Regions from separate parts of the Homo sapiens genome. Here region 1 is linked to region 2. The links come from fine-mapping of genetic effects on gene expression. Tissue or cell type: pancreas. Region 2 holds a variant in brackets; the other region holds the start of a gene. All regions are shown on one strand. Distances are between the middles of the regions.

What was found. PIP is the estimated chance that this variant, and not a neighbour inherited with it, causes the effect.
Region 1: MERTK starts here. The variant in region 2 is fine-mapped to the expression of MERTK in pancreas (GTEx, PIP 0.95).

What each region holds. Positions count from the first base shown.
Region 1 is chr2:111,895,981-111,902,142 of GRCh38, reverse strand. MERTK (MER proto-oncogene, tyrosine kinase) reads right to left here and starts at 3,536. Exons shown (of 19, transcript NM_006343.3): 1 at 3,347-3,536. The coding sequence starts at 3,407. RefSeq lists an enhancer at 4,068-4,397.
Region 2 is chr2:111,978,306-111,984,467 of GRCh38, reverse strand. It overlaps MERTK (MER proto-oncogene, tyrosine kinase), which reads right to left. Exons shown (of 19, transcript NM_006343.3): 8 at 1,475-1,626. Among named protein-coding and RNA genes, the nearest start is that of TMEM87B, 74 kb to the left of the region's middle. The variant TGTGTGTGTAC/C (reference allele first, on the strand shown) is at 2,721.

The sequences.
Region 1 (6,162 bases), 82 kb after region 2:
GAGGCCAAGGCAGGCAGATCACCTGAGGTTGGGAGTTCGAGACCAACCTAACCAACACGGAGAAACCCTGTCTCTACCAAAAATACAAAATTAGCCAGGCGTGGTGGTGCATGCCTGTAATCCCAGCTACTCAGGAGGCTGAGGCAGGAGAACTGCTTGAACCCGGGAGGCGGGAAGTTGCGGTGAGCCGAGATTGTGCCATTGCACTCTAGCCTGGACAGCAAGAGTGAAACTCTATCTCAAAAACAAAAAAACATAATTATTGTTAATTTTTTAAAAATTGTATTCAGCTGTGCATGGTGGCTCATGCCTATAATCCCCACACTCTGAGAGGCTAAGGTGGGAAGATCGCTTGAGCCCAGGAGTTCAAGACCAGCCTGGGCAACATAGTGAGATCCTGTCTCTACAAAAAATAAAAAATTAGCCAGGCATGGTGGTATGTGCCTGTGGTCATAGCTACTTGGGAGGCTGAGGTGGGAGGATCACTTGAGCCCGGAAGGTTGAGGTTGCAGTGAGCCGTGATGGTGCCACTGCACTCTAGCCTGGGTGGCAGAATGAGAACCTGCCAAAAAAAAAAAAAAAAGAAAGAAAGAAAAGAAAAGAATTCCACTCAGCACTTTAATGGGTCAGAATAATTTTCTAAAAGTATTCATTTTTAAAATATGCACGATGTACTTTCAAAAAGCATTTGAAGCCTTTGGAATAAAGCCCACAAGCAACAGAACAACTTAAAAGTTCCCTCTGGGAAGATGTTTACAATATACTGGAATACATGTTACAATATCAGTTTGGAAAAGAAATATTAACATTAAAGAATCTTAAAAGCCTAATTTACTCTAAGGGTTGAGTTTAGCTGCACACACAGCCTCGTCATGAGCTAAGTCCTCATAATGCATTCATTTTTATCCACATTTATATTTATCTTGCTCCATCCTCTCCCTGGCCCTTCAGAGAGCCACCGCTTGCCTCATTTTGCTGCTCAATGGCACCCCCATCAGAGACTGAGCAGAAAGGAAAGACTGGAAAGCCTCGAAATGCTCCTGGTTTGGCAGTTCCAGTTCTGTGTGTGCATGTCTTTGTGAGACGTGTAGTGTGTATGTGTGTTGGGGGGCAGAGGGGATTTCCTGGGTTAAAGTGATGCTTAAATTTTATTTACCCATTCTTCTATACTGCTAACAGTGTAGAATCTACACACATATTCTCATTGTCTCTCTCTCTGTCTCCCCTGTGTGGTCAGCAAAGCACTCAGACCCACAATGTGTAATAGGAAAATCTTAAAATTAGATGAAGAGTCTAATTTCCATGTTTAATTTCTTCATACAGCACTCCTTTGTGCTGTAATTCTGCCAGTGAGAATCCCATTCTTTAAGCTTTTCACAAGGTGAGATGTAAAACTGTCACACATCTCATAGGTAAAGTTCAAAACCAAAAGCAAAAAGTGCAAGAACGATTGGTGAAACTTTTCATTCTTCCAGCTGGGTGGATTTTAAAAGGCCTTTTTATGATTGTCTGATTAAAGTTGATTGTCAGCTACAAAAATTTGTTATTACAGCCTTTTAAAATTTTAGAAAAACAAAAGCACTCCAATTTTTAAGTATTTAACACAAAACTATTGTTCCCATTACTTTCTCCATAGTTCTCACCACATTCACTACCTCCAAGACTATTCACGGCCAGTCCTCACTAGTAGCAACAAATAACAGATTTGCAGCAGATTATGAAAAATGGGGCTGGCAGAAATGCTGAGGAATTTTTGAAGGTTTGGTGGAGGGAGGGGCAGTGGAGAACAGAACTGCTTTAGTTCTTTGCCTGGCTCTTAAAGTTTGTTTCAAATTGCTATGTTGCCCCAAATTATAAATTGCTTATGTAATTTAACGTGCAAAAAGTGGGTGCACTGTTTAAGAATTTTTCATTTGAGTAAATGAGCTTTCAAAGGAAAATCTCAAAGGAAAAACTTTTAAGTAACTTACTTGACTATAAACTGAGCTTTCCAGGTATTCCTAAAAAACATCTTTGACTGTAATAGGTGAAGGCTAGTCAAGTGCATTCTCGATCAAAAGAGAGAAAATCTACATGCTGAATGGAAATAGAAACCTTTTAGCTGAGAGAAAATACTTGGAATGTGTTTATTTAGCATTTTTCCCCTTTCTTTTTCTTTTGGGTAAAGCCTGGTAAGTTTATTCCAGCCTCCTCAAGAAGTGCATCAGCGATCAAACTTGAAATCTGTTCATCACTCACTCCCCAAATAAGCTGTTCAAGCAGAATGAAACCGGCCTTCCTTGCCTCCACGTATCAGTCCAGCATCTTGTATTAAAATGCCTGGAACAAGCCGGGCGCGGTGGCTCACGACTGTAATCCCAGAACTTTGGGAGGCCAAGGAGAGCAGATCACGAGGTCAAGAGATCGAGACCATCCTGGCCAACATGGTGAAACCCCGTCTCTACTAAAAATACAAAAATTAGCCGGACGTGGTAGCGCGCGTCTATAGTCTCAGCTACTCGGGAGGCTGAGGCAGGAGAATCGCTTGAACCCGGGAGGCGGAGCCTGCAGTGAGCCGAGATCGCGCCGCGGCACTCCAGCCTGGGCGACAGGGCGAGACTCGGTCTCAAATTAAAAAAAAAAAAGCCTGTAACAACACTTCGCTGAATCCAGATAAACGTAAACGCTGCCGAGCACTGTAAGTTCTGTTCTGCCATAACAGGAGTGAAAAGAACGCTCCCCTTTTCCCACACTCTCTGGGTGCCCCTAAAAAGGGATACTAATAATGCCCGTAAGGGCCCATTGGGAGCAGCCAGGACTGCCGTCCCCCCCTGGCCCGTCGCTCGGCCTCAGTCTATCGCGGCTCCCGGACTGCGGCTCCGACTCCCGCAGCCCGTTCGTTCGCCCCGCGCCGGTCCCTCGGGAGACCGGATCTGTGGCCCCCGGGACTCCGGCCAGAGCGGGGCCCCACCATGCAACTCTAGTGGAAAGTTCTCGTCGCATCCCAGACCAGACCTGCTACCTACGTTCCACTCGTCGGAACTTCAGGACTTGCAGCGCGCCCGGCCGAGCTCGATTTCCTCCTCTGCGGTGAAGAGGGGAGCCTGCAACGCCGACCCCGACCCGGCTTCACCACGATGCGCACCCGCAAGCCAGGCTGGGTGCCCTCGGGACGCTTGAGGCGCCGCGGTCAGTGGACGGTAGGTTCGCCTACGCCCCCTCCTCTGGCACCGCAGTGGGTGGAGGGTGTTTGCAAACTTGTCCAGCAGCCAGGCGCGCCCCTGTGGACGCGCTCCCTCCCCAGAGGCCCCTGCTTCCTCCTGGGAGCCCCCACCCCCTCGCCTGGCCCCCAGCCGGGCGCACTCACCTCTACGCCAGAGCGCGGGGAGGAAGAGGCCCAGCAGCAGCGGCAGCGGGGCCGGCCCCATCCCGGGGCTGCGGATCTGTAATTTCTCTCCGGACGGATGGACAGATGGACGTCCCGAACCTGTCCTGTCGCCGGCCAAGCGCGCCAGCGAAGCTCCCTGTCCGGGCGGCCCGGGCAGTGAGTGCCGAGTGGCGGAGCCAAGCGGCCGGCGGGAGGTGCCGAGGGCTGGAAGGGGCGGGCCGGGGGCCGAGCCGAGGCCGGCCGGGGCTGGAGGAGAGGAGCGGGCAGGGGGGCGAGTCCCGGCGGGCCCAGCAGGTTGGGGTGGGAGGGGGCGGGAGGACGAGGGGGAGGAGGGGCGTAAAGGGGAAAGGGAGGGGGTTGGAGAGAAGGGGCGGGCCGAAGGCCGCCGCTGGGCAGACGGCGGGGAAGGGGGCGGAGAGGAAGGGGAGGGGGCTGAGAGACCCGGAGGGAGCCGGAAAGAGAAGTGAAGGGGAGGGGTGGACTGGAGGTCCACAGCGGAAGGCTCTGGCCGCTGCGCGGGTCCGGGGCCCCACACGTGTGGGTGGGAGATGGGGAAGGACAGAAGGTGGGAGAGGAGTAGAGGATGCCCGAGGCAGCCCCCAGACCCAAGAGGAGGGTCCAGAGGCGCCCCCGCATTCCGGGCTTGGCTGACACAGAAAACCCTGGCCGCGCCGCTCCCAGAGGCCAAGGCCAGGGCGGCAGCGCTCCCTGCCGAGCGCTCCTCCACATCCATTCCGCTCGCCGCCGAGCGCCGCCTGGGTACCCGGCCCGAGGTGCGCGACACGGCCCTGGCGGCGAGGAGCTCACCTCCCCAGGGGGAGGGGTTCCTGGGAAAGGACGCTTTGCCGTGGCTCCGTGACGAGCCAGAGAGAGGTGACACTCAAGGAGGGAGATGAACGTGAATGACAAAGTGCAGAGCAGGAGTGGGGAGAGGGGGAACCACAGCACGTCACTCTCATGGGCCTCCACAAGGTGTGCAGGGTCCAAGAGGCAGTAGCAGAGAGTGAGTCGTAAGAGAAATGTAACTACTTACGCTAATAATGGCAACAGTAACTTAATTTATATACGTAGTTTCTTAAAGGTAACACTTTTAGAATGAATGTATTTTAATGTGGTCCCTTTAACAACATAACATAAGCCAAATCATGTCCCTCTCCTCAAATCTCCCTAAACCTATCAGTGGTTCCTGCTGTCTCTGCGTACGTAAGCCAAGGTTCTGCAGTGGTCTACGAGGTTCTACGTGACCTGGTCCCCTTTCCTCTTTGGCCTCATCTCCTTACGCCTCTTCAATTTACGTTGGTCTCGTCAAGCGGTCCCTTGACCCCTACACTGGCTGGACACTTCCCGTAGATTTGGCTACGGGAAGGAGACAGGCAGCCCAGATGGGTTTAGACAGGTTATTACTTACACCGACAGCAAAAGCAAAATCAGTGTGGTGTCAGCTCCATGCATCCTTAGGCCTACAAGATAACACCAAACTGGAAGGGTCAGTGTTATCCTATGGGTCTACATAATTTAACAAAAATAAATAAATAAATAAATAAATAAATAAGACAACATGAGCCCTGCCGCTGAGTAGCCAAGTCTAAATTACACCAAGCAGTTTTATAGACTTCACAGGAGCCTGCCGCTGTATGCTTGGAGGGAAGCGGGCTGGGCGGTGGAGGGAGGGATATGGAAAGTCCTGCAGTCAACTGAAACGTTGGAGAAGGAAGAGAAATGGCCTTGCAGCAGTCTCCCATGGGGTAGGGATAGGAAACTGCCTACCAGTGGCTCCTCACCAGGCTTACCCATCCCTGCTTTAGGGGAAATCACAGGGCAGTCCAACAAGACTTGGGTCAGACCGTGGTCATACCTTGCCTACATGGCCTCGAGAGATGTGCAAGATTGCCAAGGACACCTCGGCAGAGCTGTTCTCCTGCAATTTCCTTGCTATTGCTCACATATACCAAGCACTCCTCCGCCCAAAGGTTTGCACTGGCTGTTCTCTCTGCCTGAAATGCTCTTCCCCTAGACACACAGCTTCCCAGTTGGCTCTCCTCCAAGTCAGCTCAAATCTCACTTTCTTGTTGAGGCCTGCCTTGTACAATACTCTTCAGCTATCTACCGGTGTTTGATATACCACCCCAAACATAGTGGGAGTAAAATGTCAGCCATTTTATTAGATTCCTGAATTCTGTGGATCGGAGGTTTGGACAGAGCACAGGGGAAATAGGTTGTCCTTGCTCCTCCATATCTGCCTGGGACCTTAGGCTCAAATGGTTGGGGATTAGAATCATGTAAAGTAAATTATAACCTGCAGGCCTATGGCTTCTTTTTGCAAATAATCGTTATCGAAACACAGTCATTCATGTTGGTAATTGTGACAGAGATTATGTGGCCCACAAAGCCATGCAATCTGGCCCTTTAGATAAAAAGTTGGCTAACCCCGATCTCAAGGCTCATTCACTCACATAGCTGCCATCTGCACTGGGATGACTTGGGCACTAGGGCTGCAGACTAACTGGAGCACCTAAACTAGGCTTCTCCATGGTGGCCTTGGAGTAGCTGGAAGTCTTGCATGGCAGCTCAGGGCTCCAAGAGCAAGCATTCCAGTAAACAAGGAGGAAGCTTCGTGGCCTTTTATGTCCTAGCCTCGGAGGTCACATAACTCCACCCTACTCTCTTGATGGAAGCAGTCACAACCCCACCCTCATGGGGAGGAGCCATAGAGGTTCAAGCCCAACCTCTTGAAGATAGAAGTGTCAAAGAAGTTGCAGTTATGCTTTTAAAAATCTGCAAATGCCAAAATTTAG
Region 2 (6,162 bases):
GTTATCTTTTCCCATCTGAGACTCCTCAAATTTCATCTGTCAAAATTACTCTAAGCTGCGATGGTTAATATTATGTGTCAACTTGACTGGGTGACAGAGGTGCCCAGCTATGTGGCTCAACATGATTTCTGGGTGTGTCTGTGAAGGTGTTTCCAGTGAGATTATTATTTGAAACAGGGGACTCATAATGCAGACTGCCCTCTTCAGTGTGGCTGGGCCTCATTCAATCCATGGAGGGCCTGACAAGAACAAAAGGTAAAGAAAGGAGGAATTCTCCCCTTTTCTTCTGCCTGAATGCTTGAGCTGAGACATCAGTACTCTCCTATCCTTGGACTGAGATCTACACCACTGCCCCTGTTTCTCAGGCCTTCAGACTCTGACTAAATTACACCACTGGCTCCTGGGTCTCCAGCTTCCAGATGGCAGATCGTGAGACTTCTCAGCCTCTGTAATTGCATGAGTCAATTTCTTATCATAAATCTCCTTCTATACATACATGTTCAATTAGCTGTTTCTCTAAAGAATCTTGACTAACACACAAGCCCAATTCAAGTACCACCTTTTCTGGGAGAGGCAGTCTGCCACAGGCTCCAAGCATCTTTGTTCATCCTTGCTGAGTGTGACAAACTGCAAGGCCTAACCATCCCCAACCCCGAGCCATGCTGGGGCTAGTCACGTGGGCAGTGAAGTAGGTCAAGGTGGCCACAGCATGACGACCGTGCAACTGCACAGAGGATCAGCTTGTTTGCTGTTCACTACACAGGGTGCTGAGCCCTTGACCCTAGTACCCTCAGGTGCACAATCCACCAAGTGGGTACATCACATTGCCCAATGGGACTTGGTGGAGCAGGGAACCTGTGCCACCTGGCTGATGCACCTGGTTGTGTTATGTAGTGTCAGACTGCATGTCCTGATCCAGTAATTCTGATGTCTAATTTCGGCTTGCCCGCAGCTGTGCCAGGCTGGCCAGAGAGCTTGCTCGGTCTCCTCCTTTGGTGTCTGCTTACTTCTTGCCATTCTCTATGAGGATGAGGTTATTCCCTTATCTTCTTCTTTTGCAAAGTCCCATGAAATTTCCAAAAGGCCATGAATTGCTGGACTGCTAAGCCCTGTAGCTCCCTGACCTAATGCTACAACTTGGGTATTCCACACTGTCATCCTATAAGAGCCTAAATTCCATGAGGGCAAAAGTCAGGTGATAACAGAGGATGAATTCTATGTCTATCTCATGAATAAGTAAAAGAATGAATGAATGAATGAGTAAGTGAGGAAAGTCCCAAAAGATACCTTAGAATTTTGTAACTGTTCAGTCACCTCTAATATTTACTATATTCTTTATGTTCCCCTGAAAGGTGCCTTGCCTAACTCAATCACACCAGGTCTTTTCAAAACCAAATGAAAGCTTCTAAAACTGAAGTAAACCAGCAAGTTGAAAGGAGATGACTAATCGTGCTCTTCTAGGGTTTAGACTTACGGAAATCCCTGCACTCTGCCACACGTGGGATATCCGGTAGCCCACCAGTTCTCCATCCTGCTGCTTAGTCGGAGGCTTCATCCATCTGATGTCCACATTATCACTAGATTCATTCAGAAACACAGTGACATTTAAAGGTGCTACTGATGGGGCTACAAAAGAAAAAAGGAGAGAAGAATGAAGAACCACAAAGCACACACAGATGTATTCTCATCTGGGTTTTCAAGTGTTTGGTTTTCAAATGCTCTATGAAAAGCACTCAAATGAGACCAAGACTTATAGCACATTTTCACCTTTTCAACTAAGATTTTCACTGAGATATCAGTGAGTTTTAAATAAGTGAGCCCTTTTAGGTTACTGAAGCCTAGAAATTCATTTCTTAAGTTGAAAATATCAGCCAGAACATAGTGAGACCCTTTCTACAAAACAAAACAAAAAACTAAAAAATTAGCTGACTACTTGGTGCACATCTGTAGTTCCAGTCCCTCAGGAGACAGGCAGGAGGATTCCTTGAGCCCAGGAGATTGAGGCTACAGTGAGACATGATCATACCACTGCACTTCAGCCTGGGCAGAAAAAGCAAGCAAGGAAGAAAAGAAGGAAAGAAAGAGAAAGAGAAAGAAAAGAAGAAAATGTTGGCCAGGTATGGTGGCTCATGCCTATAATCCCAGCACTTTGGGAGGCCAGAGGGAGAGGATTGCTTGAGGTCAGGAGTTTGAGACCAGCCTGGACAACATAGTGAGACTCCAATCACCACTAAAAATAAAAAATTAGCTGGGTGTGATGGCACAGGTGTGTAGTCCCAGCTACTTGAGTGGCTGAGGAAAGATCACTTGACCCTGGAAAGTCAAGGCCACAGTGAGCCGTAATTGCACCACTGCACTCTAGCCTGGGTGACAGGGCAAGACCCTATCTCAAAAGAAAAAAAAAAAAAGGAAATTTCATGAGCACCTAAAGTAAAATAGCAAAGAAGAAGAAGGCAGGGAAGGTAGGGTGGGTGGTGCTCTGGACTCCTGGGGAAGTGAAGCAGACACAACTTGAACAATGTTCTCCAGCATAAACCTGTGGGGCAGAAAGTTAACATGGCCAGCTAGAGATCAGCTTGGTGGCATTTGAGATGCACAAGGTAGGAAACACTGCTGAGCTCAGAATGCAGCCACCATTTTAAAGTCCAGAGGCAAGTTACTGACAGTCTGAACAGAGCTAATCTGTCAACACATTTAAAAAGTGTGTGTGTGTGTGTGTG[TGTGTGTGTAC/C]ACGAGTGTACGTGTATAAAATAATTTGGGAAACAAGTCAAGATCATTACTACAGTCTTTTTTGGGAGAGAATAACTTAACTATATCTATTAAAATTGAAAATAATATGCTCTCTGACCAAATATTTTATTTCCAGGAATTTAATCTGTAGGTGATGTTATATTCATTGCAGCATAATAGTGACAAATAGAAATAAATGCAATGCTTGGTCAATAATTATGATATAATCTGGGAGATGGAGGTTGCAGTGAGTCAAGATCATGCCACTGCACTTCAGCCTGGGCAACAGAGTGAGACTCTGTCTCAAATAATAATAATAATACAAATTTTGATACATTTTCCAATGGAATACTTACTACCTCGTCACTGGAAAGAATTAGGTCATGTGTATTGATATAAAAAAATCCAATGGGGGAAAAATCAGATTGTAAAAAGTATATAGATCCATTTTAGAAATTAAAACAATAAACCTTCTATATCTAGAAAGAATAATAACAATTAGAATAATATACACCAAACTGTTGCCTGTAGTTGAATGAGGGGAGGTTAAATTCTATATTTCAGATATGTGTGAAAGGATACTATAACCCTCTTTTTCTCTGCTGATTCCAGAAACAGTAATCATGAAGTTAAAATGAATTTCAGCTTAGAAAACATCACACAACTAAAGCTGCCTATGAAATCAGTCGCACACTTTCAAACCTGTTGTAGAATTTGTGGATAAATATGGCCAACACAACATGTCTGTATGTCTGCCTCCTCCCAAAACCCCTCTATGATGGCAATAAAGAATTTAAAAAGATATAAACTCACAAGGCAAAGAGGAGTCAACAGTAGAAGAGAGATTTCAACACATATTTGAAAGCTGAAAAAGAGATGAAGAAGGTATAATTAACTCAGCAAGCCAATATTCTCCCAAAGAATCACAGAGCAGCTCAGAAGCTGTGGGCCCAGGTAGTAAAATGGGGACTAAAACTGGAAAGAATGATTGGAAGTCTGATTAACAAATAGTTGTGTCTCTGCCGGGCGCAGTGGGTCACGCCTGTAATCCCAGCATTTTGGGAGGCCGAGGCGGGTGGGTCACGAGGTCAGGAGATCGAGACCATCCTGGCCAACACGGTGAAACCCCGTCTCTACTAAAAATACAAAAAATTAGCCGGGCGTGGTGGCGGGCGCCTGTAGTCCCAGCTACTCAGGAGGCTGAGGCAGGAGAATGGCATGAACCCGGGAGGCAGAGCTTGCAGTGAGCCGAGATTGTGCCACTGCAGTCCGGCCTGGGCGAAAGAGCGAGACTCCGTCTCAAAAAAAAAAAAAAAAAAAAAAAAGAAATAGTTGCGTCTCAAAGTCTGTCTTCTCCATGCCTACACACCTGGCAAGTATGCCCTCAAATATCCATAGGACACAGGGTGATTTATTCTCTGAAGCAGAAAGCCACTAAACTTAGGGCACCTGTAGAATGGAGGCATGATAAGGAGCCAGGCTGAAAACTGGGAAAATAAGTGAAAGTTTATATACTAAATAACAAGGACTCTACCTTCCCCTCCTCCCCCACTTGGCTACTAGAATATCAGCAGCCACGTTTAATTCCTGGAGCAGGACACTTCTTTTCTAGAGGAAGTGAGCGGCTACAGAGGAAAGAAACCAATTTTGACAGTTGGGGGGTATCGTATCTAGATCAAAACACTTAGGTCACTGTCCAATCACCTATAGTGAAGCCTACAAGCTCTGCCCATACCCACAGAGTTCCAATCAAATCAATGATTCTTCACTCTTCCATAGGAGCAGACAGCAGAAATTAGCAGAGGTCTGGCGAAGCCTCCCCACTGAATATCAGGGACCAAAAAAAACCACACAGAACAGAGGGCTTAGAGGAGACAAAGCTAGTGTAGGGAACTAGGGAGACTAAAGACAAACAAACAAAAAATAATTGAGATATCCAGAAAAGACTCTTATGATTGAGAACCAGAAAAAAATTTTCAATGAAAAAAACTTGAAATTAGCAACATGATAAGTAAAATAAAACATTTAATAGAAGAATTGGAAGATAAATCAAGTAAATCTCCAAGAAGGTAGAATAAAAAGGCAAAGAAAATAGGCCAATTTGAAAAAAGAAAATTGAGGAAGCAATCGAAGAGGTCTAATTAACAATCGTCTAACACAATTCCTGGAAAAAACAGAGAGTGGAACATTTCCAAAGGAAAAAAAAAAGTTTAAGGACCAAAAGACTTGCATTTCCAGATCAAAGGGGCCACTGAATGCCCTTGATGACCAAAACAAATTGCACATCACAGCTTATCACAGAACCAGGATTAAAGAGAAAAGATATTTTAAAAACTAAAACTGAAAAACAGTTCACATAGAAAACTTAAGTATCAGAATTTTCCACAGCAACCCATGAAGCTAAAAAATGATACAAAAACGCCTTTAAACTTCTGAGGGAAAATAATTTCAACCTAAATTTCTATATTTGGAAAAATTACTAAGCCAGTATTACATAAGGATATGCAAGTTCCCACAATCTTTACTTTTTATGTATACATTTTGTGGAAGCTAATTGAGAATGGGCTCCATAAAAACGAGGGCATAAACTAAGAAAGGCAAATACCCAGGAGAAGGCACCAGAATCCTTAGGATGCCTCTAAAGGAAAATAGAAAAAGAACCACACGAAACAGTTAAAGGTAATGGTATCCAGGCTTCACACGGGGGAAGAATAGTGCCTGTTCCCATCAATCAGACTGGAAAATCTAATGATTCAAGAAGCACTGAGTAGGGCACACAGAATGGTCTTGTGTCAGCAGTGGGTAATAACCGACCTGAGACTGAGCCCTTATCAGGTTCTGCCTAATAAATCTTAAAAGCAAGACCCTACAGGATTAAACGGTTTCCCACTAGCTTAACTGTGTCTCAAAACAAAGCTCACTATTTACAGAAATAGAAGAATATCTAGCATCCAACACTGTAAAATTCTCAATGTCTGTAATCCAATCAAACATTATCAGGCGTGCAAAGAACCTGAAAAATACTACCTAGAGTGGAAACATAAATGAATCAGTTGAAACCACCCACAGATAACATAGATGTTAGGATAGCAAACAAAGACATTGAAACAGTTATGAAAAGGCTGGGCACGGTGGCTCATGCCTATAATCCCCTATTATAGGCTCATGCCTATAAACATTTTGGGAGGCTGAGGTGGGAAGATCATTTGAGGTCAGGAGTTTGAGAGCAGCCTGGGCAAAATAGTGAGACCCTGTTTCTATAAACAAACAAACAAACAAACAAACAAAAAACATGCTGGGTGTGGTGGCTCATGCCTGTTATCCCAGCACTTTGGGAGGCCAAGGCAGGCAGATCACCTTAAGTCAGGAGTTCAAGACCAGCCTAACATGGAGAAACCCCATCTCTACTAAAAATACAAAATTAGCTGGGCG